3 separate regions of the Homo sapiens genome follow, and all the other regions are linked to region 1. Evidence: fine-mapped expression QTL. A gene starts in region 1. Each other region holds a variant in brackets. All regions are shown on one strand. Distances are from middle to middle. Region 1 holds the start of NUP210 (nucleoporin 210). Region 2 overlaps NUP210 (nucleoporin 210). Region 3 overlaps NUP210 (nucleoporin 210).

Region 1 (10,662 bases):
CCTTTGTGTTCTAGTCGGGCCCTTGAGGGATTGGATGTGTCCACTCACATGGGTGAGGGCAGATCTTTACTCAGTCTGATTCAAATGCTAATCTCATCCAGAAACACCCTCACAGACACACCCAGAAACCATGTGTTGCCAGCTATCTGGGCATCCCTTAGCCCAGTCAAGTTCACACACAAATTAACCATCATGAAAAGGGATCATGCTGTTGGTAGTTCTAGAAAGCAAGGAGTAGAGAGCCTGTACTCTTGCAGAGTTGGTGGCCTGGTGATGTCTGAGGACTCCCTTGTGTATCCAGCTAGGTTTGCTGGAATCAGATTGAGGTGGCTGGGATAACACACGTGCGCTTGGACTTCCAAGGCAGGCTGAAGGTGTGACAAGCTGGCTGCCATCACTTATTCTGCAGCCATCATCCTCTAGTGATGCCTGTGGGGAAGGACCCAGGGGCCCACAGGAAGCAAACAATTGCCAATCCTGGCAGAGGCTGAAGGTGGCAAGTGTGAGGAACACATTCTGAGGAAGAGTAAACGCATCCAGAAAATGGGCCCCATGAGCAGGAGGCATGTCTGGGCATTGACTTGAGCAGCAATTTCTGTAATTAAGTGTTGCCATTCTCTTAAGTATGATGGGGTTTTGGAAAGCACTTTGCAAAGGTGGAAGCCATTCCAGTGCTCCTGGTGTTTTACTTCTTTTTTGTTTTGCCCAAAGCCAAGGTTTCCAGCTCAGAGGTGGTGCTGAAGGTCCACAGTGGGTGTCCCTTTCCTCCATTTCCAGAGTCCATGACCAAAGCCTGGGGGCAGACTTGTGAGAGGCGGAAACCCCCATTGCTGCTGCAGTAGGGCCCAGGCTAGTGGGGACTCAGCTTGGGGGTGTCTGAAAACACAAATGTCTACTCCAGAGGTCAAAGGGCAACATTTAAATTCAGGGAGAAAAGGAGAAATGGGGAAGGAAGCCTATAGATTGAAAGAGCCTTAAAAGACATTTCAATCAATTGCAATGTGTGAACTTTACTTATATCCTGATTCTGAAAGTATAAACTGTAAAAAGGTATTATGAATGTATGAGACAGTTGGAAATTTGAACTCTAATAATATTTTATGACCATAAGATTACTGTTAACTTTTTTATGTGTGATAATAGTATTGTGGTTATGTCTATAAAAGGGTCCTTATCTCTTAGCGATACAAACTGAAATACAGACGAAATGACAGGATATCTTGGATTTGTTTCAAAATGAGATAGGGTGGGGCCTGTGGTGACTGCAGAAGCAGCAGAATTGGCTGTGGATTGTGGCCACAGAACTGGACAGTCATGGGGCTTCATTATACCACTGTCTACTCTATGACTCTTTAAGTTTCCCCACTGCAGAATGATTCTTTAAAATTACTGTTTGGGCTGGGCACAGTGGCTCATGGCTGTAATCCCAGCACTTTGGGAGGCCAAGGGGCACAGATCCTTTGAGTCCAGGAGTTCGAGACCAGCCAGGGCAACATGGCGAAACCCTGTCTCTACAAACAAAACAAAACAAAACAAAAAGCAAAAATTAGCTGGATGTGGTGGCACACACCTATAATCCCAGTTACTCAGGAGGTTGAGATGGGAGGATGGCTGGAGCCCAGGAGGTAGAGGCTGTGGTGAGCTGAGATTGCACCACTGCACTCCAGCCTGGGTGACAGAGTGAGAGACCCTGTCTCAAAAATAAATAAATAAATGAAATACAAATAAAAATTACTGTTGTCACAAAAAGATGGTGGGTAGGCTCTAAAAGGACAACGTCCCCCTAGGAAAAAGTTAATTGCCTTGAAAAATCTCTCCATACTTGTATGCCCAAGGAGAAAGGTCAAGATTAGTGTGGTTTGTCCTTCACACTGTCTTGTGTTTGGTTATCTTCCCACTGAAGGCCCTGAGAGCAGGCCTTGGGCTCTCAGCCTTTAGCAAGAAATAGTATCCTGCGGTAATTTGAAGGCATTCTTTTGTTTCGCTGTATTTATTTTATGGCTACTTCTATTATATTTTGCAAACTGATAATGGCTTTTTATTAACAGAAGAGACAAAGTTTGCTTCTTAAGTAAATATATGTAAACACTTTGATTTAAAGACAGGAAATAACAGCACAAGTGGCACTCAGATAGATATTATTTTTTAAAATGTTTTAGGGTGGTAGAAAGTAACAGAAGTTTGGGAGACCCTGATGTGGGTCAGGAGACATTTTCCTATCTGGTTTTAGTTATCAGGTGGGTAACCGGCTCACTCAAATCTGTGGTCTCTTCCAGCCCAGAGGGTCTCTGTGCCAGGACAGAAGGCTGTGCTCAGGCCATTGTCCATGGCTGGCTCCCTGCATCTCAGATAAACACTGACACCCAAAGAAGGGGCCCAATGCCAGGGAGTGGAAACAGCCCACAGAGAAGGTGGGGGTGGCCCCTACACATGGACCCCTGGCTTGGCCCCAAATACCATCTCATACCAGGTTTGTAGGCAAGTGAAATGGGGTCTGGGGGCAAGTTTAAGGACAACGTAAAGGGATAAAATCTCAGATGGAAAATGTTTTACCCATCATTTTGTTGCCTTTTTTTTTTTGAGATGGAGTTTCTTGTTGCACATGCTGTAGTGCAGTGGCTTGATCCCAGCTCACTGCAACCTCCACCTCCCAGGTTCAAGTGATTCTCCTGCCTCAGCCTCCCCAGTAGCTGGGATTACAGATGCATGCCACCATGTCTGGCGACTTTTTGTATTTTTAGTAGAGATAGGGTTTTGCCATGTTGGCCAGGCTGGTCTCAAACTCCTGACCTCAGGTGATCTGCCCACCTTGGCCTCCCAAAGTGCTGGGATTACAGGTGACAGCCACCGCACCCGGCCCATTTTGTTGTCTTCCATGGATTGTTTTCTGCTGGGAAAATTTCCTGATTGCCTTAAATCACCTGAAACGTAGTTGTTTAGCAAGCTGTGTCCACTCAGATGTGTTTTGCTGGGCCTGTTTGTATGATTCTTTTTTTGAGATAATTGTAGATTACATGCAGTTGTAACAAATAACAAGAGAGATGCTATAATATGTGCCCTTTACCCCGTTTCCACTAGTAGACATCTTGCAAAACTATGGGATAATATCACAACCAGGAAATGGACATTGATACAGTCAAGCCACCAAGCACTTCCATCCCAGGGACTCCTCATGTTGACCTTTTATAGCCACATCACTTCCTATGCCACGCCGCCCCTGACCCCACAATCACTCACCTGCTCTATACTTCTATAATTTTGCCAACTCAATAATCTTGTATAAAAGCAAGTTTACAGTATGTAACCTTTTGTGCTTTTGTAGTGTTTGTTTTCCAGTCCGTATAATTCCCTGGAGCTTCATCCAAGATGGATGTATTAGCAGTTCATTTCTTTTTTTGCTGAATAATATTCCATGGCATAGATGTGCCACAGTATTTAATCATCACCCATGAAGGACCTCTGTGCTGTTTCCAGTTTGGGCCTATTTGATAAAGCTGCTATGAATGTTTTATGTACAGGTGATTGTGGGAACATCACTTTTCATTTCTCTAGGATATATGTCCAAGAGTGAGATTTACCTGCCTCGCAAGACATATGTATATGTATGTATATGTGCCATATTTCATATATACATATGTGTGTGCATGTATGTGTATGTGTGTGCATGTGTGCCATGTTTTATATATATATATGCTTGTTTATGCATAAAATTTCTCTGGATGTATACTCAAGTGGGAAACACTCATTGCCTGTAGGGAAGGGTATTGGGTGATGGGGAGGGAGAGGAATCACTTTCACTTGGAACCCTTTTGAGCCTAAGTTTCAACCATCTGTCTGGATTACCTGTTGGAAAACAAATCAATCTTGTGCAACCCAGAAGACACCCACAGACTTCCTCACAAATACCCTCTGAGGCTGCCTTTTCCGCGCAAGTCTGTTTTTTGTTTCTTCAAAGGGAGCCCGTTGGAATTCCCCTCCCAGAGCACCTGGTTCCACACAGGGCCGACCCTCACCCCCTTAGTTCTGGTTATCTCCAGAGATTTCCCCCAACACACACATTCCCTGGTCTAGGGCCCTCAGGCTTCGAGGGTGACCCCAAACACCCCGCATCACCATCCAAAAGCCCCATGATCCCTGAGGGGCAGGCTCAGCCTATGCGGGCCTCGCTGAAGCCCAGTGCGGTGTCTATGCCCAACCCAGGGGCCGCCGCCTCCAAAAAGCCTTCCTAGCCTTACTGACATTTATCCTCTCCTTCCTGGTCACCCAGTGGCATCGTTGTGTGTCTTCCTGGTTACAGTCAGCATCCACTTCCTGCACTCCTCAGACAGCCGGCCAGTGCACCCTCACCCCACCCTTTCCTGACCTCCCGCTAGGCTGGGCCTTCTCTGCAAGGCTAGATTCATATTTTAGCGGCACCAAGCAGTCAGGTGCCTGCTGACGCATGCCTTCATGCAATTCACGACAGACAGCTAAAAGCCACAGAGCACAGCGCGGAATCTAAGGCCTTCCATTGGTGTGCAGGTGGATTCCGCGGTGCTAAACTTTCTTTTGTGGGTGTGGGGGCCGTGGAGGGGGTTGTGCTCTGGCAGCGTTGGCGCCCTAAATGACCTATAGGTAACCTCTAATGGCTTCCGCAGGGGGTGCAGTGCGGAGGACAAGAGCTTGGGGCTCTCTGGCTGAGTGATCTGGGGGCCATTCAACCGGTTTTTTCCTGGAGAAATGGGAATCTTAAGGCCTCTCTGGAAAGGGTGTGAGGGGGTCGAGGGGGAGCGGGCCCCGGGCCTTCAGCGCTTCAGCAGGTGGCTTCCCTTTGCGAGCCCGGGGTCCCTCTTCTGGGAAGCATGGGCTGGGACAAGGCAGGCGCCGGTTTTCTGCATCCCAAATGTCCTGGGGCATGTGTCCCTTCCTTGCTGACCGTGGGTCCGGGCCAGAGCGCAAGGTCCAAAGCCGGCGGCTTGGCTCCACCGCCAGGGGCAAATACCAGGGCGGGATGCGTGCTGCGGGGCGCCCCGGGGGCTCCCCCTTGGGACTTCTAGGGTCCAGGGGTCCCCGCGGGCGCGCCCCAAGCCTTCTCCCTCAGCTCCGGGGGCCCGGGCGCGCGCCCATCCCCCAGCCCCGCGTCCCTGCGCGAGGGCCGGGCTGGGGGTGGGGTCGCCGCGAGCTCGGCCCCCAGAGTTCCCGCGCTCAGGCCCAGGAAGCGGCGGCCGCCGACGGCCCTCGCCCCGCCCCCGCGCTCATCACCTGCTGGCCTGGCGCGCGCGCGGGCGGGAGCGGAGGGCAACGGGGCGGCGCGGGCGGCCGGGCGCAGGGTCGCGGGAGGTGACGCGCGGCGAGGATGGCGGCGCGGGGCCGGGGGCTGCTGCTGCTGACGCTGTCGGTGCTGTTGGCGGCGGGCCCCTCCGCCGCTGCGGCCAAGCTCAACATCCCCAAAGTGCTGCTGCCCTTCACGCGGGCCACGCGCGTTAACTTCACGCTGGAGGCCTCGGAGGGCTGCTACCGCTGGTGAGGCGCGCGGCCGGGCCGGGCGGGCGCCGTGGGCCGGGCTGGGCCTTCGCGCTGAGAGGCTGGGCGGGCGCCGGGAGGCCGGCAGAGCCGGCAGGTGCGCGGCGCGCTCTCGCTGGGCGCTAGGCTGCAGCACTCGGAGCGGCGGGTGCGCGTGGGTCGCCACCACTGCTCATGTCATGGCGCCGTCCGGGCCTCCGCGCCGCTGAGGCGCGAGCAGAGCGGGCGCAGCCTGGCGGCCGTGACCCGCGTGTTCTGGGTTGTGCGGGAGGAGGGGTGGCCTGGGGAGCGGCGTCTGGGACCGCAGGGCCCAAGCCGGCCGGGCCCGAGCCGGCCTGACCCGGGAGGGGGCGCCGGGGCAGCTGGGCCGCACTTCCCTTGAGTCTGGGACCCCAGCTCGGGTTTGTCTGTGACCGCCCTCGCCCTGGCGTGGGAAGTGAGTCTGTGAAACGAAGCGCAGCGCCTAGCGTCGCGGGGAGGAACGGAGACCCTGGAGGAAAGGAGTTTTGGAGGGAAGCCCAGGGGCCGCTTTACAGAGGCGAAGTGAGACGAGGCAGGCCGGCGCTTCCCCTCAGGCTGCCTCGGCGCGGGTCCTGATGCTCAGGGCATTTCCATCACCCTCCCTCTCGGGTTGGGAGTTCTCCAAGGGGTCGGATGCGGAGTGTGACCCTGTGGAACCACAGGGACCCATGAAACCAGAGACCGACACTGACAGGGCGGTGCAGTCCAGCCCTTCCATTTTGCAGACCAGGGGAAATGGAGCTCCTGCCCCTGGCAAGGCTGCGTGGGCACGACTGAGCGCCCTTAGCTTCCCAGCCCAGCCGTCCTAGGGGTGAAAAGATGGGCTTCCGCCCTTCCCACCCCCAGGATGCTCAGTAGTTGCTCCCTTTATTTCTGTTTCAAGACTGGGTCAAGGTTGAGGCAGAACGGGGTGTGACCACGTGACAGCCATGTGTGTAAGCCTGGACATGTGTGTGTCAAGCCTGTTTGAGTATTAGTCTGTGCGTGTATGTAAGTGTGATGCCCGAAGCTCAGACCAGCCAGCTTTCTCTGTTGCTTGCACTATTTGCCCTATTTCTTTCTTTCTTTTTTTTTTTTTTTTTTTTTTTTTGAGACGGAGTTTTGCTTTGTCGTCCATGCTGACGTGCAGTGGTGCGATTTCGGCTCACTGCAACCTCCACCTCCCGGGTTCAAGCGATTCTCCCGCCTCGTAGCTGGGATTACAGGTGCAGGCCACCTGGCTAATTTTGTTTGTTTGTTTGTTTGTTTTTAGAGTGCACTCCAGCCCTTGTTGCCCAGGCTGGAGTGCAATGGCGCGATCTCTGTCCACTGCAACTTCCGCCTCCCCGGTTCAAGCGATTCTCCTGCCTCAGCCTCCCGAGTAGCTGGGATTACAGGCGCCCGCCACAACACCCAGCTAGTTTTTTGCATTTTAGTAGAGACGGGGTTTCACTATGTTGGCCAGGCTGGTCTCAAACTCTGGATTCACTGTGTTGGCCAGGCTGGTCTTGAACTCCTCAAGACCAAGGAGAACTCCTCAAGCGATCCACCTGCCTCAGCTTCCCAAAATGCTGAGATTACAGGCGTGAGCCACCATGCCTGGCTTGTCTGGCCAATTTTTGTATTTTTAGTAAAGATGGGGTTTCACTATGTTGGTCAGGCTGGTCTCGAACTCCTGACCTCAAGTGATCCCGCCGCCTCTGCCTCCCAAAGTGCTGGGATTACAGGCGTGAGCCACTGCACCCGGCCTGCCCTATTTCTTTTTTGAAGGTCTCCTTCCTGAAATCAAGACGTACTAGGTCAGCCCATTGCATTTTGGTTTTAGTGCTTTATGCACCTGGAGGCTCCTATTTCTGGCCTGATGCCAGAGGCTGAACTTGGGCATTAGGTTTTCTGTATCCCAGTCTAAGGCCTAGTCTTGTGTGGGAAAATCAGCTGTTAGTCAATACTGTGGCGGGGATACATGCTCATTCTCTTGTTGAAGCTGTCTGTCCTCTCAGTATGTGGGCAAGAAAGAGGAAACTGGTTATTAAAAACAGCTGGCTTCAAGTGAATCCCTTTGGATATATTTGTGTGTTACTTTCTCTGAGATTCTATAGCTGTACTTTTTTCTTTTTCTAAACTAACAACACTTTTTTCCCCCCCAACATCATTTTCTTTTCTGAGAGGAGCTGAAGGGTGTTGGTGGATTTTAATTTACTTGGTAGGAAAAAGGGAAAAAACATTCTTAATCTCTGATGCATCAGAGAAGTGCTAAGTACCTTATAACGTGTTTGGCGTTGATCTGTAGTTTGTATTGCAGATGTGTGACTGCAGATGTGTGACTGCTATTCAAAGTGTCTTCTCAGAGGTGTTTGGAAATTGTGATTCCCCCTTAACTTGACAGGAAGACATTCTGTCAATCAAGCATTGAGAATATTTTCTTTATTTTTAGTATTGCTGTTCCTAGTGTAGTCGTCTATTGCTGCAGTTTTGAAGAATCTGCTCTGGAGATTTTAAGAGCTGGCCTATAGACATATATCCACAGTCCTCTAAACCTGGGAGGAACATTACCTCTTCATCCAGAAAGTTCATTGTTAAGTCTCTCAGACGAAAAAGAAAATGAGAATTCTGCCAGACCCTGTGGGAACATTTGCACATCCATTGAATTTGCAGCTGAGCTCTAAGTTTACAGAAATCACTGTGTGTGCCTGAGCCAACAGCTTCATGTTTACTTTTCCTATTTTTTTTATTTTATAACATCAAAATTGGACAGTTTTCGGGCCAGGGGAACCTTAGAGGTCACCTAGTTTAAACAGCCTGTGTTTCATATAGGAAAACCTGAGCTCCAGAAGGGGAAGTGATCTCTGGGAAGTCTTGTAGCGATGGACACTGAGTTGGAGCAGGAGCTGCTGGGACCCCTCCCTGTCCCACGCCATTAGACCTGGGGACTGGCAGCCTCTGGCTAATTTGCCAGGCTCTAATTCTCTCCAACTGCACCCAGCCAGCACTGGTTTTGTGACAAGTTCCTGATTCCTTCTAGATATTTTGCATTATTGAAAGTGTTCCATAAAGTATATTACATTTGCTCCTTTTAAAGGTATATACAAAACGACCTCATATCAAAAACTGGGAGAACAGACGAAAAAGAAATCATGCCATAATCTTCCAGCTGTAATACAATCACAGGCAGCATTTTGGTTTCTTTTCGGTCACTTATGTTTCCTCTCCTAGCTCCTTTCTTACATTGCCTTGAACCTGGTTATTTGGGCACCTCGGGAACCTCCTCCCCTGCCAACACTGGCTAGCACTGAAGCCCAAGCACTGCTCTGTTGCTTCTTCCTGAGGGCTCCGTGTCTGAGCACCTTTCTGCTGGGTTGAAGTTGCCTCCTCATTGATTCTTTCCCTGTCATGGAGTCCCAGGGTATTCTGGGTGCTCCAGCAAGGGGGCGCTGTCTTGGAGAAAGTGAGTGGCTCAGATTGGTTTCCCAGGGGTGGAGCCTGAGGCAGGATTCTGCTGCCCTAGTTTACAGAGAAAGTGCTCTGTTGGGCAGCTGGATAGGGAAGGGAGGCTGCCTGCAGGTTGTCCTGCCTTCAGGCGAAGAGACCAAGCTTTGAGCTTTTGTACCCACTGTCAGGCAGCCATTGGTTCCCCTGGGGAAGGGGATGTTGTGCGACCTCCCGGGCCTCTGGCGGAGACACTCTGTTTTGAATTACGACCTGCAGCTCCCCTGGCTGAGGTGGGGAGGGGATGTGGACCTGCCTGGTGAACAACATCCAGACACAGCATGCACAGTGACTGCCATACCAAGCTGTTCACAGACTTCTCCTTTCCTGCCCCTGACAGTCTCTCCTGGGCACCTTGGAGCCATCTAACACGTGTGCCAGGCCTGGTCCTGCACCAGGGTACACCCTCTCTTATGTGGTCTGGGGCACTTCTCAGTCACAGGTGTAAGGATTCTCAAACAGGTAGATGGGAGTCCTTTCAGGGCCAGGGAGGGCACTGGTCCCTATGCCGTGGAGCTTGGCCTTGGGGCATGCTGTACCCCAGGCAGTTCAGATGACCCCTGGGGAGTCCCTCTTTGCTGAGGGGTGACTGTGGGAGGCCAGAGGCCAGCACTACCCTTGCGTGTGGATGTCCTGGGTCCCTCTCCCTGCCCCAGCAGGGGAAGCTGCAGCAAATCCCCTCACAGGCCTTCGTGGGTGAAGTTGGGCACTAAGGGTGAGGGATGCACGCTGAGCCAAGTCAGAGTGTCATCTGGCCTAGCTGGCTTCTGCTGGGCTCAGGGACCCTGAGCCTCTGGGACGGGCACGTCAGCAGGTCACATGCTGGAAACTTGCACAGGTGAGGCAACAGGGCCTGTAAGAAGTTGCCCCATAGTCAAAATAAAAAATTCACAAAGTGGAAACAACCCAAAAGAGGGAGTTGAATTCGACGGGAGGCCCCCAGTTTGCTCTTCTGTACCTCCTTCACTTGGCCTTCCCTGAGCCCACACCTGTACTTCTGCTCTTTTCGTTGAGAGTGTTTTCCCCTGTACCACTCAATTTGTGTGCATGCTGCATCCCCACACACCTAGGCCAAATCTCTGTCTCCTTCCTTATGCCTGGCCTTAGAGTCACAGGCTTTGGTCGATTGCGTTATCATCTGGGCCTATTTGATGGCATTTCTGGCAGTTAGAAAGTGGGGTGGAGAAACCAGAGCTCCCGCAGGGCCTGGGAGAGGGCACACGGTGAAGACCCGTCCTGCCTGAGCACCAGGGGACAAGCACTGATGGACGACACATATTTCACCGAGGAGGGCTGGAGAGTCACTGAATAAGAGGTGACAAATGTCTGTGACTCTTTTTATTTTTTGAGATGGAGTCTCGCTGTGTTGCCAGGCTGGAGTGCAGTGGCACGATCTCGGCACACTGCAACCTCCACCTCCCAGGTTCAAGCTATTCTCCTGCCTCAGCCTCTCAAGTAGCTGGGACTACAGGCACATACCCAGCTAATTTTTGTATTTTTAGTAGAGACAGGGTTTCACCATGTTGGCCAGGATGGTCTAGATCTCTTGACCTTGTGATCTACCCGCCTCAGCCTCCCAAAGTGCTGGGATTACAGGCATGAGCCACCACACCCACCTGTCTGTGACTCTTACTATGAGCCAGGCACTACTTGAGGTCCTGGGATGTGACAGTG
Region 2 (10,662 bases), 110 kb after region 1:
TGATCGCTGCTCATTGGGGCCATGATGCAGGCTTTAGTTGCCCAGCTTTCCCATCTGTTCTCAACATGGCAGCCACAGGGGCTGTGCCCCTCTGCTCAGCAGCCTGCGCCAGGAGAAGAAGTGCCAGGGTACCAAGAACAGCTGTGGGCCCGGGCCTCCAGCAGGTGGCCTGGCCCTCTGAGACCACCATCCTTACATCTAAGAGGGACCTGTGGACTGCCCTGTAGACGTACAGTAGGGCAGGAACGTGATGGGATGCCACAGTGGGCCTGGTGGTTTTGGTAACTCATCTTCCCATTGATGGCAGATGGAGCCAGCCTCTTCCAGCACTTCCTGGATTCCTACCAGGTCATGTTCTTCACGCTCTTCGCCCTGTTGGCTGGGACAGCGGTCATGATCATAGGTGAGGAGGCTGCCTGTATCTCTGGGTCTGTTCCCCTGCCCCGACCTGCTCTAACCAACCCTGTGCTCTTGCAGCCTACCACACTGTCTGCACGCCCCGGGATCTTGCTGTGCCTGCAGCCCTCACGCCTCGAGCCAGCCCTGGACACAGCCCCCACTGTGAGTAGCCCCCCTGCAGGCACAACCAGGCAGAGCTGCTGAGAAAGAGAAGAGCCCTGGGGGAGGGGTCGAGGCTCCTGAACCCTAAGTCTCAACAGGCCCTTGCCTGGGCCAAAGGAGCCTGAGGCCCAGAGGACAGATGTGGGAGCCAGGAGGGTCGGGGCAGAGGGGCTGCCAGTCCTGGTTCAGCAAGAGCTTTCCCCAGGTAGAGCCATGCTGGGTGGAGGTATGGGCAGCAAGGAGCTCTGTCTAGGCAGGAGTGCATGCTAGGACTGGATGCCCAATTGCTGAGGCTGCCTCAGAAGGCTCTAAGCTGGGGTTGGACGAGCTGACTCACAGATGGGGATTCTGGGTAGTTCTGATGAGAAATTTCCCAGAAGAATGGGCAAAGTCATTTATTTCAATGGTCTAACTGTCTCTCTGGTGACCCCGAAGCCCTGGTGACCCTGCACAGCTCCAGGGAGCACCTCACTGTGTGAATGTAGTTTCTCTCTCAAACAATGCAGTGCCCAGCCTGTACTGCTGTACGTGAAGGCCCTTTAATGTCTCCTGATTCCCATTTGAGGGTTCTCTCCCCTACACAAAGAGTCCTCGAGCTCGTGTCTGCTGACATGGGGGCCCATGGACCGGCTTCAGGGGGGTCCCTGAATTTTTTTGAAAGAAGACCCAGTTGTGTGGGTAGAAGCACTTTCCTGGGTAAGGAGAGCCCACACGCCCTTGTCTTCTGCCTGACGACTTCTCTACCTGCAAAGCGGCACCCAGGGGAGGCCACGGGTGCTCGGCCTCCTCGCGGCTCTGCTGCCTTCTGCAGCTGCTCTGGCAGCAGGTGCCTGCCCTTTCTAGCTGCCTCTCTCAGCGTGCTCCTCCCTGGGTTTTGGGAGCCACACCTGGATCTCTGCAAGGTCTCCGGAGCACTGCAGAATCGCTGCTCCCCTCGGGGTCTTTGTTCCTGTGGCGCTCTTGCCCGAGGCTGCATTGCATTCAGATGCACGGGGCCTCCCTGCCTCATGCCCCCTGGACAGATGCTGCTGTGGTCCTGAAACTTGAGACACGTTCTCCCCGGAAGGCTCTGCGCTCCTGGGTGTTAGGGTGGCATCCCAGGCCTCTCTGTGTGAATGAGGCCAGCTCAGCAGGTGCCCGTGGACTTCCCTCTGCTGGCCGGGGAGGCCTCGGGGCATCACTGTGAGAGTGTCCTGGGTGAGGCAGGCGCCTGCTGAATGCTGGCTGTAACTGAAGAGTGCGCCGCTTTCCCTGGCTCTGCTGCTAACATCGTCTCTCTTCCCACCCTAGATTTCGCTGCCTCATCACCCACATCTCCCAATGCATTGCCTCCTGCTCGCAAAGCCAGCCCTCCCTCAGGGCTGTGGAGCCCAGCCTATGCCTCCCACTAGGCCGCGTGAAGGTTCCCGGAGGATGGGTCTCAGCCGAGCCTCGTGCACCCCCAAGATGGAACATCCCTGCTGCATTCACACTGGAACAAGCCCCTCCAGATGAGTGCCCCGGCCCCAGGCCAGCTTCACTGCCGTCTCTTCACACAGAGCTGTAGTTTCGGCTCTGCCCATTAGCTCATTTTATGTAGGAGTTTTAAATGTGTGTTTTTTTCCTTTCAAGTCTTACAAAGCTAAGACTTTTTGGCTCATTCCTTTTTGCATGGTTGTCTAGGGTTTCTGGACAATGTGCTGTTGCATTTTTATTTTCCTAGCCTTGCTAAAATCTTTCCCTTCTCAAGACTTTGAGCAGTTAGAAGTGCTCTTTAGAAGTTGTCTGTGGGTGATGTTACTGTAGTGGTCTCAGGGAAAGGATTGTCCAGTTACTTTAGGGGGTTTTTGGTGGGGTTTTTCCCCCTGTGAAAACTTACTTTGCCCCTAGTCTGGCTGCTGCTAGGACTTCTGAGGAGCAATGGGACATGAGTGTCCCTGTATCTGCGCCACTGCCGCAAGGGAAGCCTCAGGAACCAGCACCTGGAGGCCAGGATAGCCAAGCCCTGGGTGAGCGAGAGGCTGGAGAACACAGGAGCTCACCCAGGGCTGCTGCCCAACCATGGGCCACTGTGAACAGACTTCAGTCCTCTGTTTTTGTTTCATAAGCCGTTGAGACATCTGATGGACTTGGCTTAGGCCCTGCTGGGACATCCCACGTGTGATCCCTTTCACTCCATCAGGACACCAGGACTGTCCTTAGGAAAATGTCCTTGAGATGGCAGCAGGAGTCATATTTTCTGTGTGTGTGTTTCGGAAAGCCGCTGTGTCCTGCCTCAGCACAAAGACCCAGTGTCATTTGCTCCTCCTGTTCCTGTGCCACTCCAGAACCTCAGCAGATCTGAGCCACCGCCTGCCAGTGTGAGAGGCGGCCACTTTCATGGCAGCTCATCAGGCGCAGGGCCCCAGACAGCTTCCCAGCAGGCCCTAGAGCCCGGCCTGGGCCAATGATGGAGGGCGGCCGCCAGCCCAGGGCCTGCCCATCCAGAAGGGACTCCCCAGGGCCTGGGGGAGGAGACCCTTGGAAAAGTCCTCTCTTCCCAGCTCCTGATTCTGGATCTGAGATTCTCAGATCACAGGCCCCTGTGCTCCAGGCCGAGGCTGGGCTACCCTCAGGGAGATCCAGAGACTCATGCCCATGGCCATCCATGCGTGGAC[G/A]CTGTGTGGAGAGTCCAGGATGACGGGATCCCGCACAAGCTCCCTTCAGTCCTTCAGGGCTGGGCCATGTGGTTGATTTTTCTAAAGCTGGAGAAAGGAAGAATTGTGCCTTGCATATTACTTGAGCTTAAACTGACAACCTGGATGTAAATAGGAGCCTTTCTACTGGTTTATTTAATAAAGTTCTATGTGATTTTTTAAGAGGGTGTGATCGTTGCTGAGATTTCTGTCTGATGGTGATGATTTCTTCCCTTTACCCATCTATGATACTCTGGGGCCTGGCAGAGCTGGAGGTCTGAGCTTTATTCTCCCCAAAGGGTGAGCATCATTTTCAAGCACATTCAGGTTGGCAAATGCAAGTGCATCTGGACGCAGCCAGATCTTGCCAGCAAGTGAGTGTGCCCAAGAAGGCACATTGACAAAACCAGGTGATGCCACACAGTTCAGCTTTCTGCTCCCAAGCTAACCAAGCAACTCTCTGTCTCTAATGGTTGCCAGAAAAGGCTTTTAGCACCATTTAGCACTAAAAATATAGTACATCATATAGATTGTTTTTTCTCTAGAATTCTTAAGTCTGGCCAAAAGTGAACTCTCGTTCTCTGTTTCTCTGTGTGTCTTTGTGCATGCTTACATGTGCATTCCTGCATCCTGGAAATGTTTTTTTGTTTTGTTTTGTTTTGTTTTTGTTTTTCGTTTGTTTTTGAGATGGAGTCTCGCTCTGTCACCCAGGCTGGAGTGCAGTGGCGTGATCTCAGCTCACTGCAAGCTCCGCCTCCCAGGTTCACACCATTCTCCTGCCTCAGCCTCCTGAGTAGCTGGGACTACAGGCGCCCGCCACCACGCCCGGATAATTTTTTGTATTTTTAGTAGAAACAGTGTTTCACCATGTTAGCCAGGATGGTCTCGATCTCCTGAGCTCGTGATCCGCCCACCTCGGCCTCCCAAAGTGCTGGGATTACAGGCGTGAGCCACGGTGCCCGGCCGCATCCTGGAAATGTTACATCACAAAGTCTGCGAACACTCAGTAGCAGGGAGCACTGAACCTGGGGTGTCAGGGGTGGGTAGCACAGGTCTAGGCTGGTGAGAGCTTAGCAATCAGGTGACCAGGAGTCTAGGTCCACTTTGTTCTGGGGCTGGAGAGAAATTTATCTCTCTGGGCCACAGTAGTTTCCTCACCTGCAAAAGGGCCCTCCTGACATGTGTCCTACCCACCACCTGCCCAGAGTGGCTCCCAGCAGGAAGCAGGTGCTTCCTGAGGGTCTGTCCCCAGACCCTCAGCCTCCCTCTGTGCACGCCCTCTCCCACATGCCTTTGCAGTTCCTTCTGCCCATTGAGGCTAGGTGTGGTCATGTGACTTGCTTTGGTTGGCATGGGTGAGAAGGACCATGGGTCTGTGCTGGGCATCCCTCACCCTCCTCATGCCCCTGCCATTGATGTAGTAATCAGGAAGCCCAGGTAGCTGCAGGTCCAAGCAGGAGGAAGGACACCTGCAAGGGACCTGCCAATCCCGGATCACCTGGCCTGCAGCCCACGGCTATGAAAAGAGTGATGGTTCCTGGGGACAGCGTGGTAGGCAGCAGTGTTGCAGCAACCTGTGACAGGTAAGAAACATGCTATGGTTCCCTTCTGGCTGAATCCAGTGAAGGCAGATGTTTTCCGTCTCTCATGTTCCCTCCCTTTGTGGATTCCCTCTGGGCTGTCTGGTGGGCCCTCTCAGCCCATCCTGCTGGGACAGGGTGTCCTGGGCATCCCTGGCCTCAGGCCTAGCCAGGCACCCAGTCAGGAGCCTCTGAGGACAGGGCACAGCAAGGCTGTGCGATGCTGGGCCTGCCCCCTCCTGCGCTCCCATCTCCTTCTTTGGGCAAGGGTGTGGTCAGCCACACACTAGAGGCTGCTATGGGGGTGGATGGGAATGTGGCTCCACAGGACACATCGCTCCATCATTGTGAGTCCTGTGCCCACATGAAACCATCCTGCCCAGCCTCACTCTCCATTGCAGCCTTATGGCAGGGCCACAGTGGGAGGGATGTTCTCAGGATGGTTTGTGGAATGAATGCATGAATGAACCCCCATGAAGGAATGTGATTCTGGGTTTCCCCAACTCTGGGTTCTACTTTCTGGAACATCCTGAGCCTCAGGTCAGTGTGGAGAGGAGCAGGGTTCAGGGGGGCAGGTGGAGGCTGAAACTCAGAACAGGCTGAGAGTGCCCACCAGACACAGCTCAGGGGAGAATTGGCTGAAGGGAGGGACCACAGGACAGAAAACAGAGAGGGCTGACTCAGTCTCTTCCAAACCACTCCTTTCAGCCAACTCCAAGCCACCTGGGCCAGCGCCAAATGAAGCCAACTTGACAGAACCACCTCTGGCCACCAGCATGGTTCCCAGCAGTCTGTAGATCCGTGTAGATGGCTGGAAGAAGCCGAGAGGCAGGGTGAATGCTCAAAGCCGCCGCTGTTTCCTGCACGCCACCTGCTAGCACATGCTGAGCGTTTCCAGTCACCAGCTCACTTCATCCCCGCCACAGCCCTAGGAGGCAGGCCCATCCACCTACAGATGGTGAAACCGAGGCCCACAAGGTGAAGCCACTCGCCTGGTCACACACTGGCAAGTGGCAGAACCAGGATTCAAATCCTGGTTGACTGGCACCAGAGTTTGCTCCCCCGATGTGTACCTTCTTCTGCCCTCCTGGGTAGGGGCATCCACTGTGGGAGCCTTGCACCCACTTCCCTCAGACCAGCTCAGCTGTGGACTGTCTCATGAATTATTTTATAATCATAAAGAAGAACTTTTGCTGGGCATGGTGGCTCACGCCTATAATCCCAGCACTTTAGGAGGATGAGGCAGGCAGATCACTTGAGGTCAAGAGTTCAAGACCAGCCTGGCCAATATGGTGAAACCCGGTCTCTACTAAAACTAAAAAAATCAGCCAGGCATGTGCCTGTAATCCCAGCTACTCAGGAGGCTGAGGCAGGAGAATCACTTGAACCTGGGAGGTGGAGGTTGCAGTGAGCGAAGATCACACCAGAGCAAGACTCCATCTCAAAAAAAAAAAAAAAAAAGAACTTTTAACATAAAAAAAAACTTTAACATAGAAAAATATTTTTTATAAGGAAAAATGCTTTTCATAAAAAATTAAAAGGCCTGGTGCGGTGGCTCATGTCTCTAATCCCAGCACTTTGGGAGGCCAAGGCGGCGGATCACAGGGTCAGGAGATCGAGACCATCCTGGCTAACAGTGAAACCCCGTCCCTACTAAAAATACAAAAAAATAGCTGAGCGTGGTGGTGGGACTGAGTAACGGGACCTGTAGTCCCAGTTACTCAGGAGGCTGAGGCAGGAGAATGGTGTAAACCTGGGTGGCGGAGCTTGCGGTGAGCCGAGATAGCACCACCGCACTCCAGCCTGGGCGACAGAGCGAGACTCCATCTCAAAAAAAAAAAAAAGAAAAAAAATTAACAAAAACTTTTTATAAAAAAAAATTTGGCTAGGCGCGGTGGCTCATGCCTGTAATCCCAGCATTCTGGGAGGCCGAGGCCGGCAGATCATGAGGTCAGGAGATCGAGACCATCCTGGCTAACACAGTGAAACCCCGTCTCTACTAAAAATACAAAAAAAAAAAATTAGCTAGGCGTGGTGGCGGGCGCCTGTAGTCCCAGCTGCTTGGGAGGCTGAGGCAGGAGAATGGTGTGAACCCGGGAGGCGGAGCTTGCAGTGAGCCAAGATCACACCACTGCACTCCAGCCTGGGCGACAGAGCAAGACTCTGTCTCAAAAAACAAATAATAATAATAATAATAATTTTTTGGCTGAGTGGTGGTTCATGTCCGTAATCCCAGCACTTTGTGAGGCCGAGGCAGGAGAATCACTTGAGCTCAGGGGTTCAAGACCAGCCTGGGCAACACAGGGAGCTCCTGTCTCTAAAAAAAATTTTTTTTTTTGAGACGGAGTTTCACTCTCGTTGCCCAAGCTGGAGTGCAATGGTGCAATCTCAGCTCACTGCAACCTCTGCCTCCCGGGTTCAAGCAATTCTCCTGGTTCAGCCTCCCGATAGCTGGGATTATAGGCGCCCACCACCACGCCCAGCTAATTGTTGTATTTTTAGTTGAGATGGGTTTTCACCATGTTAGCCAGGCTGGTCTCACTCTTGACCTCAGGTGATCCGCCTGCCTCAGCCTCTGAGACGGAGTCTCACTCTGTTTCCCAGGCTGGAGTGCAGTGGCACAATCTTGGCTCACTGCAACTTCCACCTCCCGGGTTCAAGTGATTCTCCTGCCTCAGCCTCCTGAGTAACTGGGATTACAGGTGCCTACCACCACACGTGGCTAATTTTTGTACTTTTAGTAGTGACGGGGTTTCACCATGTTGGCCACGCTGGTCTCAAACTCCTGACCTCATGATCTGCCCGCCTTGGCCTCCCAAAGTGGTGGGATTGCAGGCGTGAGCCACCGCGCCCGGCCGTTGTTGTTGTTGGTGGTGGTGGTGGTGGTGGTGGTGGTGTTTGAGACGGAGTCTCTTGTCACCCAGGCTGGAGTGCAGTGGTGCGATCTCGGCTCACTGCATCCTCTCCCTCCTGGGCTCAAGTGATTCTCCTGCCTCAGCCTCCCGAGTAGCTGGGATTACAGGACCTGCCACCACGCCTGGCTAAATTTTTGTATTTTTAGTAGATACAGGGTTTCACCATGTTGGCCAGGCTGGTATCAAACTCTTGACCTCAAATGATCCACCCACCTCAACCTCCCAAAGTGCTGGGACTACAGGCATGAGCCACTGTGCCTGGCCAAAAAAAATTTTTTTTAATTAGCAGGTGTGGTGGCACATGCCTGTAGTCCCAGGTACTCAGGAAGCTGAGACAGGATTGTTTGAGGCCAGGAGTTTGAGGCTGCAGTGAGCTGTGATGGAGCCACTGTACTCCAGGGTGGGTGACAGAGTCTCTACTACTGCTACCACCACTACTAATAATTTTTTATTAAAAATAATTTTTAATAAAAAAATGATAAACAATGTTTAACATAGAAAAAATGTCTCATAATTTTTTTTATAAGAAAAAAGTTTTGGGCCCAGTGCGGTGGCTCACGCCTGTAATCCCAGCACTCTGGGAGGCCGAGGTGGGTGGATCACGAGGTCAGGAGAGCAAGACCATCCTGGCTAGCACAGTGAAACCCTGTCTTTACTAAAAATACAAAAACTTAGCCAGGCATGGTGGTGGGTGCCTGTAGTACCAGCTACGCGGGAGGCTGAGGCATGAGAATGGCATGAATCCAGGAGGCTGAGCTTGCAGTGAGCCGAGATCGCGCCACCACGCTCCAGCCTGGGCGACAGAGCGAGACTCAATCTCAAAAAAAAAAAAAAAAAAAAAAAAAAAAAGTTTTGGCCGGGCGCAGTGGCTCACACCGTAATCCCAGCACTTTTGGAGGCTGAGGTGGGCAGGTCATCTGTGGTCAGGAGTTCGAGACCAGCTTGGCCAACTTGGTGAGACCCTGTCTCTACTAAACACAAAAATTAGCTGGGCGTGCTGGCATGCGCCTGTAATCCCAGCTACTTGGGAGGCTGAGACAGGAGAATCGATTGAACCCGGGAGGTGGAGGTTGCAGTGAGTCCAGTGAGACTCCATCTAAAAAAAAAAGAAAGAAAAAAAAGGAAAAGAAAAAACTTTTAACAGAAAAGTACAACAAATAATTTAACAAACCCCCATGCCTACTACTCAATGTAGGCTCTTGTTAGCATGATCTCATAGGCTTCCAAGGTGTGTTTTGTTTTGTTTTGTTTTTCAAAAAATAGACAGAAAAAAACTACTATTATAACTTGTCTCATTTAACCTCTACGTTCTAGCCCTTCGTCTTTTTTTTTTTTTTCTTGAGATGGAGTTTTGCTCTTGTTGCCCAGGCTGGAGTGCAATGGCACGATCTCAACTCGCTGCAACCTCCGCCTCCCAGATTCAAGCAATTCTCCTGCCTCAGCCTCTCGAGTAATTGGGATTACAGGTGCCCGCGACCACGCCTGGCTAATTTTGTATTTTTTTAGTAGAGACGGTGTTCTCCATGTTGGTCGGGCTGATCTTGAACTCCCGACCTCAGGTGATCCACCTGCCTCGGAATCCCAAAGTGCTGGGATTACAGGAGTGAGCCACTGCACCCGGCTCTTGTTTTTCTTTTCATAGGCTACTACTTTTATAAAGTTGGAGACAATCTTTCCAAAGCAACTCTTATTGTTAAAAAGCATCAGTAAGTCTGGGTGCAGTGGCTCACATCTGTAATCCCAGCACTTTGGGAGGCCGAGGCAGGCGGATCATGAGGTCAGGAGATCGAGACCATCCTGGCTAACACAGTGAAACCCCTTCTCTACTAAAAATACAAAAAAATTAGCCAGGCGTGGTGGTGGGCGCCTGTAGTCCCAGCTACTCAGGAGGCTGAGGCAGGAGAATGGTGTGAACCCGGGAGGCGGAGCTTGCAGTGAGCCGAGATTGCGCCGAGATTGCGGCACTGCACTCCAGCCTGGGCGACAGAGCGAGACTCCATCTCAAAAAAAAAGAAGCAAAACCCGAGGTCACAGGCTGGGTGATCGTCTATCACGTTGTTAAGTTTTCTGTTGTATGTAATTAGCAAATGAACCTCTGCGGAAGATTTCATAGCTCATCAGGCGACCACTTCCATTTGGAGAGGCTTCACTGAAAGCCCATAAAGACCACTGACAAGAACCAGGAAAGTTGGAAAGTGGAATCTGAAAGACCCCTTGCTTCCTTGCTTTCAAGCATAGTAGCTTCCTTGTTGGGGTCTTTCTCAGTGGACGGGGGAGAGTCGGGGGGCAAGAGCAGCGGCCAGCGAACCTGGTGGATGGGGCCCAGGTGCAAAGCAAATCCTGCCTCTGCCACTCACCTGCTGGATGACCTTGGAACCTTCATGTTTGAGCCTCAGTTTCCCTGTTTGCAAAATGGTAATTATATGACCTTCGTAGCATTGCCACGTGGGCGTAATTACTGAGTTGAACCACCCCTTCCCCCACCACAACCCACAACAGTGGTGAGCAAACATTTGATGCTCAATAAACGTGAACTTTTCTTCCTTTGTCTTCCTGGGTGGTCCAGGGAAGCCATCCCCAGTCTCTTGGGGACCGTGACACACCTCTCCAGGAGTTGTTTCTTAGCAGTAGTCCCCTCTGCCACTCACTGGACCAACAGAAACAAATCAATAATCAAGTCCAGGGGTCACAAACATGGATGCTGCCAGGCCAGGTAGACACACCCGAGCCAGGGGGTCAGATGCTGGTGACCTGGACTGCATGGCCTTGCCTGCTTGGCTCCAGCTGCTGTGGCCAGATGGGAACAAAGCCCCACTGGGGCCAATTCCTCTGGTTTTCCAGACTCCCCTCATCCACCTTTCTTGGGATAAAACCTAATAGATAAATAATGGCAATAAAATTCAACTTTTAAAAACTGTAAAAAACAACCTACAGTGAGCCAAAACAACTGTC
Region 3 (10,662 bases), 88 kb after region 1:
CACTGTGGGGCAGCACGAGCTGTGCTGCTGGGGGACCCATGGCCTCCTAGAGCTCCAGGGACTCCTTCCGGAAATGAGTATCTTGGCCATGGAGAGGTGCAGCCCGCTGCAGGGGAGGGACAGTATGGGGAAAACAGTCCCACCTCTGGTTTGCTCGTTTGATATTTCATCAAAATTCCCAAACCTGTGCCATGCTCTTCTCTAGTTGGGGAGGAATTGGGTTCATCTCCCACTGCTTGAAGGAGGCAGCAAAGCTTCTGGGGGCATTCCCAGTGCTGGGAGCTACTGCTCACTGGGCCTGACTTCTCCCCTGCAGATGCCCATCTATGTCACCGGCATCACCAACCACCAGAACCCTTTCTCCTTTGGCAATGCCGTGCCAGGCCTGACCTTCCACTGGTCTGTCACCAAGCGGGACGTCCTGGACCTCCGAGGGCGGCACCACGAGGTAGGTAACCACCCCCTCCAGAGCTCACCTCCCACCCCTGTCCCAGGCCAGCACCCCGAGTGGCAGGGAGGGTTCCTGCCACATTGTCCCACAGGAAGTCCCCACCCTCACACCTAGAGAGGCCCGCCCACTTTCTTCCCTCTCCCGAGGCTCATCGGGACTCCCTTCTCCCAAATGCTAAACACATAGACGGGGTGAGTAGGTGCCTCTCCCAACAGAAGCAGCCGTGTGAGGAAGTCACAAAAGTCCTGGGAGGTCAGAGTCTGCAGCTTCTGACCATTTTCTGAGATGATGCCTGGCAGCCCTCGGTTTCTCCTGGTTCATCCCAGAGGCCAAATTCCCCTTCCCTTAGCCCAGCGAGGGGCCCTGGCTTCTCCTAAGATGTCAGAGCTGGAAGGTGCCAGGGAGACTACTAAGTCTGTCTGTGTTAACTGAGGCCAGAAACGGGAAGGGACTTGCCCAGGGTTGCCCAGCAAGCCAGTGGGGAAATGGTACTGGGCACCAGCCCCTGTGACTCTAGGCCCAAGCCCAGGTGGGCCTTGGACACACAGGACCCAAGTGGAGGGTGGCTTGAAAGGTCGCTCCCTGCCTGATTCAGGGACAGTGGGGATGGAGGCCTGGAAAGAGACCAAAGCCCAGGGATAGGATTTCCTAAAGGCTGCCTGAAGCTTGTCTAGTGTGGGACGAATGCCCCCCGACCCCACCCAGTGGGAACAGAGTCCTGTCCCTGGTGCCCGGGGGCTCCCCCAGATTGCTCCCATGGAACACAAACAGTGAGACTTATTAGCAGATATCCCCAAACAGAATAGTCTGCAGGGACACACTGCAAAACCCAGCATCGCTCTGGGTGACCTAGAAGCACTGAAGTCTGAGGGACATCCTGTCATGAAGGCCCCTGGCTTACGTGGGTGGGCCCAGTGTTTTCCAAATGCATCTGTGCATGTTGTGCGATGCAGGCAGGGCAGGACCCGGGCACCCATGCTGGGGAAGCCGGGTCTGCACAGCTCTGGGGTTAGCAGACCCAACCCAGGCAGGAAGGCAGAGCCCTTGAGAACAGGCCAGCAGCTACCAGGACTGGGGGGCTGGGGGGTCTGGGGCTACTGTCCGGCTCTGCCTTTTTGAGGACACAGGGGCCTGGGCCTTACCCCTGAAAACGTGTTTGATGTCTTCCCAGGCGTCGATCCGACTCCCGTCACAGTACAACTTTGCCATGAACGTGCTCGGCCGGGTAAAAGGCCGGACCGGGCTGAGGGTGGTGGTCAAGGCTGTGGACCCCACATCGGGGCAGCTGTATGGCCTGGCCAGAGAACTCTCGGATGAGATCCAAGTCCAGGTAGGAGGCAGGTGGAAAGGCCACAGGGAAGGGGGAGAGGAAGTGCCAGCTGCCCAATCTTCCTTCGGGGCCACATGTTGCATGGGCAGGGGCTGAGAGACCTGAGAAGCTCTCAGTCCGTGGGGATGACAGTGGTCCATCGCAGTGGGGTAAACATCCGGGTGTGATTGGTGCTATGGGAGCCCAGAGGTGGGGCCAAGCAAAGGCTTCACAGAGGAGTAATGTTTCAGGATGGGAGGGGCTGGCAAAGGCCTGGAGGTGGGAACTCACTTGATGTGTGGCCAAAAGAGCAAAGAATTCTGAGCTTGGGGCTCACTGTGTCTGAGTGGCTGATAATTTAATCGTTTGTGTTTATTTAACACACATAGAGCACCCAACAGAGGCTGGGGCGCCCTTGCACGTTTTTCAGTATTGCTGCCTCCAGTCCTCAGGTGAAGCCTGCGGGGCAGGGGCTGCAGGGGCTGCCACCTGCTGATGCCCCTGAGGCGGGGAGGGTCAAGGTCACAGGGTAAGTTGGGGGTGGCCTCAAGAGGCCTGGGGACTGTGCCCTGTCTGCATTTGGAAAACAGCCTCAGAGAGGGAGGCGCCTTGTTCAGAGCCAGGGGTCAGGACTGCGTCTAGTGGTTCTCCTGCCTGGGGTGCAGCCCTGTGTCTGTATCCAGCCTGTCCCTGCTACTTATAGGATGGGCTGTGGGCGAGTTCCTGCCCCTCTGGGCCCCTCTGCAAGGTGGAGAGTTGGCAAGTTGGCTCTGAAGAGCATTTTTGTCTTCAAGGGCCTCGTTCTGCTCCTCTGGGCCTCAGTAACCCCTGGGTGCTCCTAAGCTGTAAAGAAAAACAAAAAGTGTTCCTTATATGTCCCAAGAAAAGAAACAGTTTCTAGTCCCCGCCTCAAGAAGAAATAAACTATGTCTAACCCAAGCACCTCCCTGATCAGGGGCAAAGAAGCAAACTTTTCAAGAAAGAAACACCCACAAAAAAACCCCCACCGATCTGCCAACCCCTCACCCCTGCCTGCACATGCACACACACACGACACACATGCACACACAGACACACATACATAGAGACACATACATACAACACAGAGGTACACATGCACATCCCCACACTCACCAAATGCATGTTCTTTGTTAAAAGGAAGTAAGTCCTGGAGCCTATCATGGAATTAAAGGCAGGGTTTTGCAGCTTCCAAATTCTGTAACCTCAGTTGGGTCACTTGGCAGCTCTGTGCCTCTGTTTCCCTATCTGACAGCAGGTAGAGTTTGAGTAAATCAGAAACTAGAGAATCTGGATCCAGCCTACAAACGTGTTTTATTTGGCTCACTCAGGCCTTTGAGACAGCTTGTTGTCATGTAAAGATAGGAAGATTCCAGGTAAAAATCTAAGATGCAGCATGTCCTAAAGATATGGTGTCTGCCACAGCAAAATCAGCAGGCAATGAGAAGCAACCTTGACTCCATTAGAGCTGCACTCTCCAGTTTGCCACAGGCCCCGCCACTCCCTGTTTTCTCCCTGACAGTGATATCAAGTATCAGTTGCCATTTACCATGGTGCTCATGCTGTTGCTTTTCTTATAGTTAACAGGAAAGTGGGAAATATCTTACAACTCCCCCTCCATCTAAAGAGAGAAAATAGGAATGCATGGTTTAAAAAAAAATAGAAGGAATCCTATTTATGAATGTATTTACCAGGCAGTAAGTGTGTCCGAGTCAGACTCAGTGAGGTGGCTTCCGTGTGGATGCCGGAAGGGGGCATCCGAGTCAGCCTCGTCTCACCTGACGCCAAAACCCCACCCAGCTCCCAAAGGCTGTTTCTCACCGTTTGGGAAGTGTTGTTCCTCCTGTCACCTCATATGGAGCCCACAACTCTCAAGACAGGCATGGAGAGGACGTTAGTTGTGGACCATGTTACACACAAGGAAATCTAGGCTTACGTGGACAGAGCACAGAGGAGCTGGGAGGGGTGGAATCAGGCCATCTTCCTCTCAGAGAATCACTCGTCAGATCCGATGATATTGGCCATGGCCCAGGGCTCAGGCCCGAGGGGTGTCCACCTGGTCTGATCAGAGGCCAGTGGAGAGCTCAGGGCACAGCTTTACCTGCCAGCGAGTGGTTGCCCCTGAGCCAGGCTGGGAGGCCGAGGAGGCAGCAGCCCTGAGGGGCCTGAGAGAGGGGACTTACACAGGTGGTGGACACATCTGAAGTCTTGCAGAGAAGGGGCCTGGAGTTCCCAGGTAAGTGCTGTTGCCATGGGCTCGGGGAGCCACCAGGGCCTTGGAGCACTTGGGCGTCCCAGGATCAGATCTGAGCCGACCTCATGAGGCTGATCATTTGCCGGACTGAGCTCCTCACCAGGCCCCTGTGTGTGTCTATGTGGATCCTGCAAGAACATGGCCAGAGCCAGCCAGAGGAGCCTGGGAGGTGGAACGGGGGTTGTTCTGAGATGGTGGCAGTGAGGAGCAGGATGTCTCTGTGAGAGAAGGGAGCAGTTCGGTGGCACCTTGCCCAGGCTCAGTCCTGGCACAGTTATCCTGAGCAAACCCTGGTGCTGGAGTTGTGTGTGCTGCCCTCCGCGCTCACATCCTGGCAGGTAAAGTTCTTCCTCACTGGGCACGGAGGGAGAGGCCTGTGTTTCCAGGCTCCTTGAAGGAGCTCCCATTAGACTACACAAACATGAGCCTGCCTGTCTTTTCTCATCATATCTTTGGCCATGTGTGTGTGTGTGTGTGAGATAGGGTCTTGCTCTGTTGCTCAGACTGGAGTGCAAGCCTCAGCCTCCCAAGTAGCTGGGACTACAGTTGCACACTCCATGCCTGGCTAATTTTTAAAATTATTTTGTAGAGACTGAGGGTTTGCTGTGTTGCCTTGGCTGAGCTACTCTACCCGGCCACACCTTTGGCCTCTTAAAGGTCAGCCCTTCACATCATGTCATCAGTGACCTGACAGACGAGAAAGCCGCTTTTCTCCTCTCTGGCCCCTCCTCGGCTCTTGCTGCTAGGAGAGAAGCAGACATCTGGCCTGAATGTGACTCCAGTGCCCCATCGGAAGTGAAACTTGCCCT[C/G]TCTTGCAGGTGTTTGAGAAGCTGCAGCTGCTCAACCCTGAAATAGAAGCAGAACAAATATTAATGTCGCCCAACTCATATATAAAGCTGCAGACAAACAGGTACGTGACTCAGCTCTTGTTTCCAGCAAAGTTGTGCGGCTGTGCTTGCATCCGACACCTCATGTGTCAACACTGTCAGGAGCCATGGGTACTTTCAGGGAGGTTTTCTCCTGCTGTGCTTGGAATGGGTGAGGCCTCTGCCTGCTCCTTCTCTTCTCTGTGGTGCTCCTCTGCTTCTTGAAATCACTTCTCACTGTGGGTCTCTTTTTCCTCCTTGTAGCCTAGAAACATTTTTATGCGAGGTACTAAAATTCAGTCTTTAAAAGGGAAAAAAACACCAGCTTAGAAATGTTGTGTTTCAAGACTTGCCACTCAGAGTGTAGCCCATGAGCCAGAAGCATCAGCATCACCGGGAAGAGAAGATGCAGCTCTCAAGCCCCACCCCAGACCTGCCCAGGGAGAAGCTGCACCCTAGGGAGATCCCCAGGCGAGGGGGCCGCACAGTAACGCTTGGGAAAAGCTGTTTAAAGCTCTTCTGCAAACCTAATTCCTACCTTTGATTCCAAGGGGATGCCTTTCGTAACAGTGGCTTGCATTTGAATGGCAGTTGCCAAGCGGGAGACTCCACGGGCCACAGGACACTTACATGTTGCATGAAACACATACATGTTTTCATTCAGCCAAAAGTAACAAAGTGCCAGGCTCCATGCTGGGCTCCAGGAACACAGATATGGGTGACATAGGGTGCCCCGGAGGAGGGTAGCAGGAGAAGGCTATTAAAAAGCAAGGTGTAGTATTCAAACCAGAGCCCAAAGAAGGGTGCTGTCCATGGGGATTTAGGGGAGGCATGTCCCAGATGGAGATGCTCGGGCTGCAGTTCTTGAAGGATGAATAAGAGTTCCCCAGGTTAAGAGGAAGGGGTTGGTGGGGGAAGAATGTTTAGGCAGAGGCAATAACATTTGCTCCTAGTCATCTATAGGGCTGTGGAAGAGACAGAGATGATGGAAACTAGCCGTGGGAGCTGGAGGCCTTTGCTTCCTGGGTTTCTTTATTATATTAATAAATATGTAAAAGGGTAACAGATACGGCATAATTTGCTTCCTACCCAGTACATAGTATCAGTAGTTTGCTAACAGTTTTCTTAGCGGGTAGTCTGTTTTTATCCTGTTGACAGTCCTTAGAAATAGGACAAGACAGGATCATTACACACCTTTTACCAAGTAAGAAGTCAACGCCGAGAGAAGAGGGGACATAATGTGCACACAGCTGGTGGCAGGACATGTTGGGACCGGCTTTGGATTCTGTCGGACTCAAAGCCCCATCCTCCACTATGCCAGGATGCCTTGCTTCAGTAAATTGAGAACAATTTGCTGCAGAAATGATATTTTACAGTAGATGTCCCATGGAGCTGATGAAAGAAACTGCCCTCATAGTCTCTCCCTCCCTGCTGGCTGACCCACGGCAGGCACTGCTCTGGGAAGAGTGAGACGCCACACTTTGCTCGGAACCATTGGATTTCTGAATTACTTTTCCGTGGGTGACTGATGAAGCCTCAGACAACTGACGGCACGTGGTCCTGAGGTCCGTGGGGCCAAGATTGGGCCTTTTTTCCTCCCAGGAGCATGAGGAGCCACAGACTCTTAGATCTCCTGGCATTGTATCCAGGCCCACTCCCACTGCTGCCATCTACAAAAACAGCTCTGTTTTGTTTTCCAAAGGGATGGTGCAGCCTCTCTGAGCTACCGCGTCCTGGATGGACCCGAAAAGGTTCCAGTTGTGCATGTTGATGAGAAAGGCTTTCTAGCATCAGGGTCTATGATCGGGACATCCACCATCGAAGTGATTGCACAAGAGCCCTTTGGGGCCAACCAAACCATCATTGTTGCTGTAAAGGTAGGGTTGCATTCTCCTCCTTTTTGGAGTAATGAAAGCAATAGCACTGAGGTAATATGCCTCTCAGGTGTAAAAGTGAATACGTTCACCTTCCAGCTAAGAAACTGTAGACAGGCATTTAGAGTAACTCAGGGGCAAAGGTCCTAGGTAGATAAAAAGCTACAGCATCTTCTGGTCATCAGAGCCGAAGATCCTTGGGAAATCATTGATTCCAAGAACTTCATTTCATAGATGAGGCCCAGCAAGGTCCATGATTGGCGTAAGGTTACAGAGCTGGGACTGGCACCACAGCTTCCTGACTGGAGTGCGGGTGCTCCACCCACTGTGCCTGGCCACTGATGTTATCACCACCCATGGTGGAGCTCCTGTTCTGGGCCAGCCCAGTGTCTGGAACATGGTCTGTTCTTAAGAGCATTGAATGTTGTGCTCAGTACCTGCCATACAAGTCGTGACATCCAGTACGTGACATCCACTGTGGTTTTGAGAATGAGGTGGCCCATTTTCCAGACAAGGAGACTGAGGCTCAGAGTGAGAGTGACTTGCTTAAGCTTGCATGGGGGTTGAGTGATGGGGTCTGTCTGGTTTGGGCCGTGTCCTTCTGCCATATCATGGCACTGCCCTCTGCCGTTCTGTGTTCCTTACGGATGGGACCTTCTCCATCAGCATCCCTGGGTCAGGTCCTGGGGTTTTGCTGAATGGAATTTTCTTTCCATGTCTCATCATCACCACTTGCTGAACCCTGGATGACAGAAGACACACACTCACTTAAATCTTTAGACTCTGCCTGGGTCACAGACCTCTTTCATTAATTCACATCATTTTGTTTCAAAATGGGTGCCTGGCAGCAAATCCCCCGCTCTAGTTTTTGGTGAGTGAAAGTGACTGACTGCTCATCCTATTTCAACAAATATGTACTGAGCACTAGCTGTATACCAGACACTGCACCACTGAACTTTGTTAAAGAAATTCAGACCTTTGGAGCACTAGCTTTTGAGCGAGGATAGATTTTCACCTGGACTCAGAGAAACAAGGGCTGCTGTTTATGGAGCTCGGGTTCTTGGGCTCCAGAAATCCCCATTTCCCTCCTTCCCCTGGTGGCCTGCAGGGCATGCTGTGGCCTGCTTAGCGCTGCCCCTGCGATCGAGGAGGATTTCGTTTCTTTAAATGCCCCAAGAGCCAGGTTCTCTGAAGAAACTGGACATTTGCAGCCCAGGGGGCCCTCTTGCAATGTAAATAGTGATCTCATTTATTCAAGTCATGGATTGGGACACTCCTGGGTGGGTTTTCTCATAGAGAGGCCAGTCTGCTGTGTTGGGAAGTAAGAACCTTGTCACTAGGTTGGGACACTCTGGGGAGTGTGGCCTTTACTCCTCTCAGGACCCCTAAGTCCAGCCCTGCATTGTTCCTGAGGTGGATCCTGCTGGGGGCAGGTGTCCCCTCCTTGGGAGGTGGGTTTTCCTGGAGGCCAGTCCCTGGCACTGAATCCTCATCATACCTGTATGTTGTCCCTTAGGTATCCCCTGTTTCCTACCTGAGGGTTTCCATGAGCCCTGTCCTGCACACCCAGAACAAGGAGGCCCTGGTGGCCGTGCCTTTGGGAATGACCGTGACCTTCACTGTCCACTTCCACGACAACTCTGGAGATGTCTTCCATGCTCACAGTTCGGTCCTCAACTTTGCCACTAACAGGTAGGATGTGGGCAAGGGTCATTTCTCCTATGAAGTCCTGTCTGGTACCTGGTAGAGACAACTGGGGATAACACAGAAAGTCTGCTGCTGTTGAAGGAAGATGTGTATTACTTCAGTTTCCAAGAGATGTGGGCATGCTGCACCATGCAGGGCCACGAGGAAACACCACTGCCCTTGGGGGATGTAGACCAGCTCAGAGGAAGACAGACAGGCATCAGCCCCCAAAGGAGGAAACAGGGCATGGGGCAGCTCCAGGGAGTGCTCCCCGAGGCACAGGAAATTGGCCCTTCAGCTTCGGCTGCCCACAGGTCCTGCCACAGTTGTGTTTCCCTGTTGCTGAATGCATTCAAAGACAGGTGTCAGGGGTGTTGCCTTATGGAAAGAACTGGGGTTTAGAGTCAGGCCTGGTTCTAGCCCCAGCTCTGCCCTTCGTGGGCCCTGTGAGTAGGTCACCATCCAAAAATCTGTTTCCACACCTCTCACGTTGGGCAATATGGCCTAGGTTCCAGGGCTTTCCTTCAGCTGAGGGAGTGGTCATGAGGACCGCTGGCAAACCATGGCACTCCGTGTGTGCGCACATAATTGCCATCCATCAGTTTAGGGCATGTCCTGGAGGAAATGGAGCCCAGTTCTCCCAGCCCTTTGGCTGCACTGCAGGTCATTCTGGCCTTCTTGTAGCAGGAGCACCTGATAGAGACCTAGTCAGCACTCAGGGTCAGAAGGTGTGGTGGAGGCAAGGATGCAGCCATGATCCCTAACCCAAACTGTCACCCCACGCAGTCCACACTTCTGCACCAAAGCTGCCATTGCCAACATTGACTGAGCACCTGCCCTGTGGCAGGTGCCTCCCCACTGCTGACCTCATGTAATGCTTATGCCAGGCCTGCGTCACGGTCACGTGATGATCCCCATTTTTCAGAGGAGGAAAGGGGCAGAGGCTGCTTCTGCAGTCAGGTTGCATAGTAAGGGCAGCCTTCCCTTTCTGGCATGTCCAGTTCCCTGGTGGGAAGAGCGTGAGGAAGCACTCTGGATCTCTTTCCCCTCGGGGCCTCAGCTTCCTTTCTGAAATGCAGGAATGATGCTGCTGCCACTGTTTGGCTGCGAGCTGCATGTGCTTTCTGGCATGACAAGTGAGGAGGTCGAGCCTGTGCCACCTGCCTGCAGTGGTCCCTCATCTGGGGCCACTGCTTGGTAACCTCGAGTTGGGGCCACACCTGGGACCTCAGTCAGTTGAATGCTTTGCTCAGCAGAGGACATGGATTACGTTTCTCCCTTTGGGAGTTGGAAGCTTCTTTCCCGAGACTGAGAGCCCTCCTTTCTCTCCTGTGCCTAGAGACGACTTTGTGCAGATCGGGAAGGGCCCCACCAACAACACCTGCGTTGTCCGCACAGTCAGCGTGGGCCTGACACTGCTCCGTGTGTGGGACGCAGAGCACCCGGGCCTCTCGGACTTCATGCCCCTGCCTGTCCTACAGGCCATCTCCCCAGAGCTGTCTGGGGCCATGGTGGTGGGGGACGTGCTCTGTCTGGCCACTGTTCTGACCAGCCTGGAAGGTAAGATAGATCCTGAGCAAGGGAACCTGTGGAGTCACGGACGCTTGCAAAGCTGGGTGGGGGCTACCTGGGCAGGGGCTCGGCACCAGTCACGGGGGCCTACAGGCAGACCTGCAGGATACTCAGGAGCAGTGCTCCAAAACTGCTGCCCGGAGACCAGATCCAGCCTGTGCCTGTTTTCTGCAAGTAAATTTTTGTTGGCACTCAGCTGTGCCATGCATTATGTATGGTCAGTGGCTGTTGTCACCCTACCACTGCCAGATTGTGTGGTCATAGCAGAGATTGTATGGGCTGCATAGCCCAAATGCTTATGTCCGACCTTCACAGAAAGCATTTGCCAGCCCTTTTCTGGAACAGCTCTGCCAAGTCGGTGGGGGGGTCCCCTGCCCCTGTGGGGCATCCTGTCTCTGCATAGTCTCACTCAGTTCCTCTAGCCAGGAGACACACGGATCTCTGCTGCTGCTGAGGAACTGAATTCACCATTTTAGTGAATTCTGTGGGAAGTGGCCGCCATAGTGGACAGCACAGGCTGGGAGACTTAAGCAAAGAAGGACACTGGGCTAAATCAGGGGCTTCCAAATTTCAGCCATGCCCAGGTGACCTGTAGTACATCTGTGGAACACGTGTACAATTATTTACTTAGC

Evidence for each region.
Region 2: its variant is fine-mapped to the expression of NUP210 in whole blood (INTERVAL, PIP above 0.99).
Region 3: its variant is fine-mapped to the expression of NUP210 in nasal epithelium (TOPMed, PIP 0.94).

The regions. Positions count from the first base shown.
Region 1 is chr3:13,414,900-13,425,561 of GRCh38, reverse strand. It overlaps NUP210 (nucleoporin 210), which reads left to right and starts at 5,240. Exons shown (of 40, transcript NM_024923.4): 1 at 5,240-5,502. The coding sequence starts at 5,336. RefSeq lists silencers at 5,006-5,405, 5,456-6,025 and enhancers at 8,818-8,887, 8,948-9,097.
Region 2 is chr3:13,308,971-13,319,632 of GRCh38, reverse strand. It overlaps NUP210 (nucleoporin 210), which reads left to right. Exons shown (of 40, transcript NM_024923.4): 38 at 308-403; 39 at 478-561; 40 at 1,852-3,398. The coding sequence ends at 1,952. Among named protein-coding and RNA genes, the nearest start is that of NUP210, 110 kb to the left of the region's middle. The variant G/A (reference allele first, on the strand shown) is at 3,198.
Region 3 is chr3:13,326,573-13,337,234 of GRCh38, reverse strand. It overlaps NUP210 (nucleoporin 210), which reads left to right. Exons shown (of 40, transcript NM_024923.4): 27 at 317-448; 28 at 1,623-1,781; 29 at 4,851-4,942; 30 at 6,601-6,775; 31 at 8,289-8,464; 32 at 9,798-10,018. Among named protein-coding and RNA genes, the nearest start is that of NUP210, 88 kb to the left of the region's middle. RefSeq lists enhancers at 4,412-4,461, 4,782-5,141, 9,369-9,868, 9,869-10,370 and a silencer at 6,309-6,476. The variant C/G (reference allele first, on the strand shown) is at 4,842.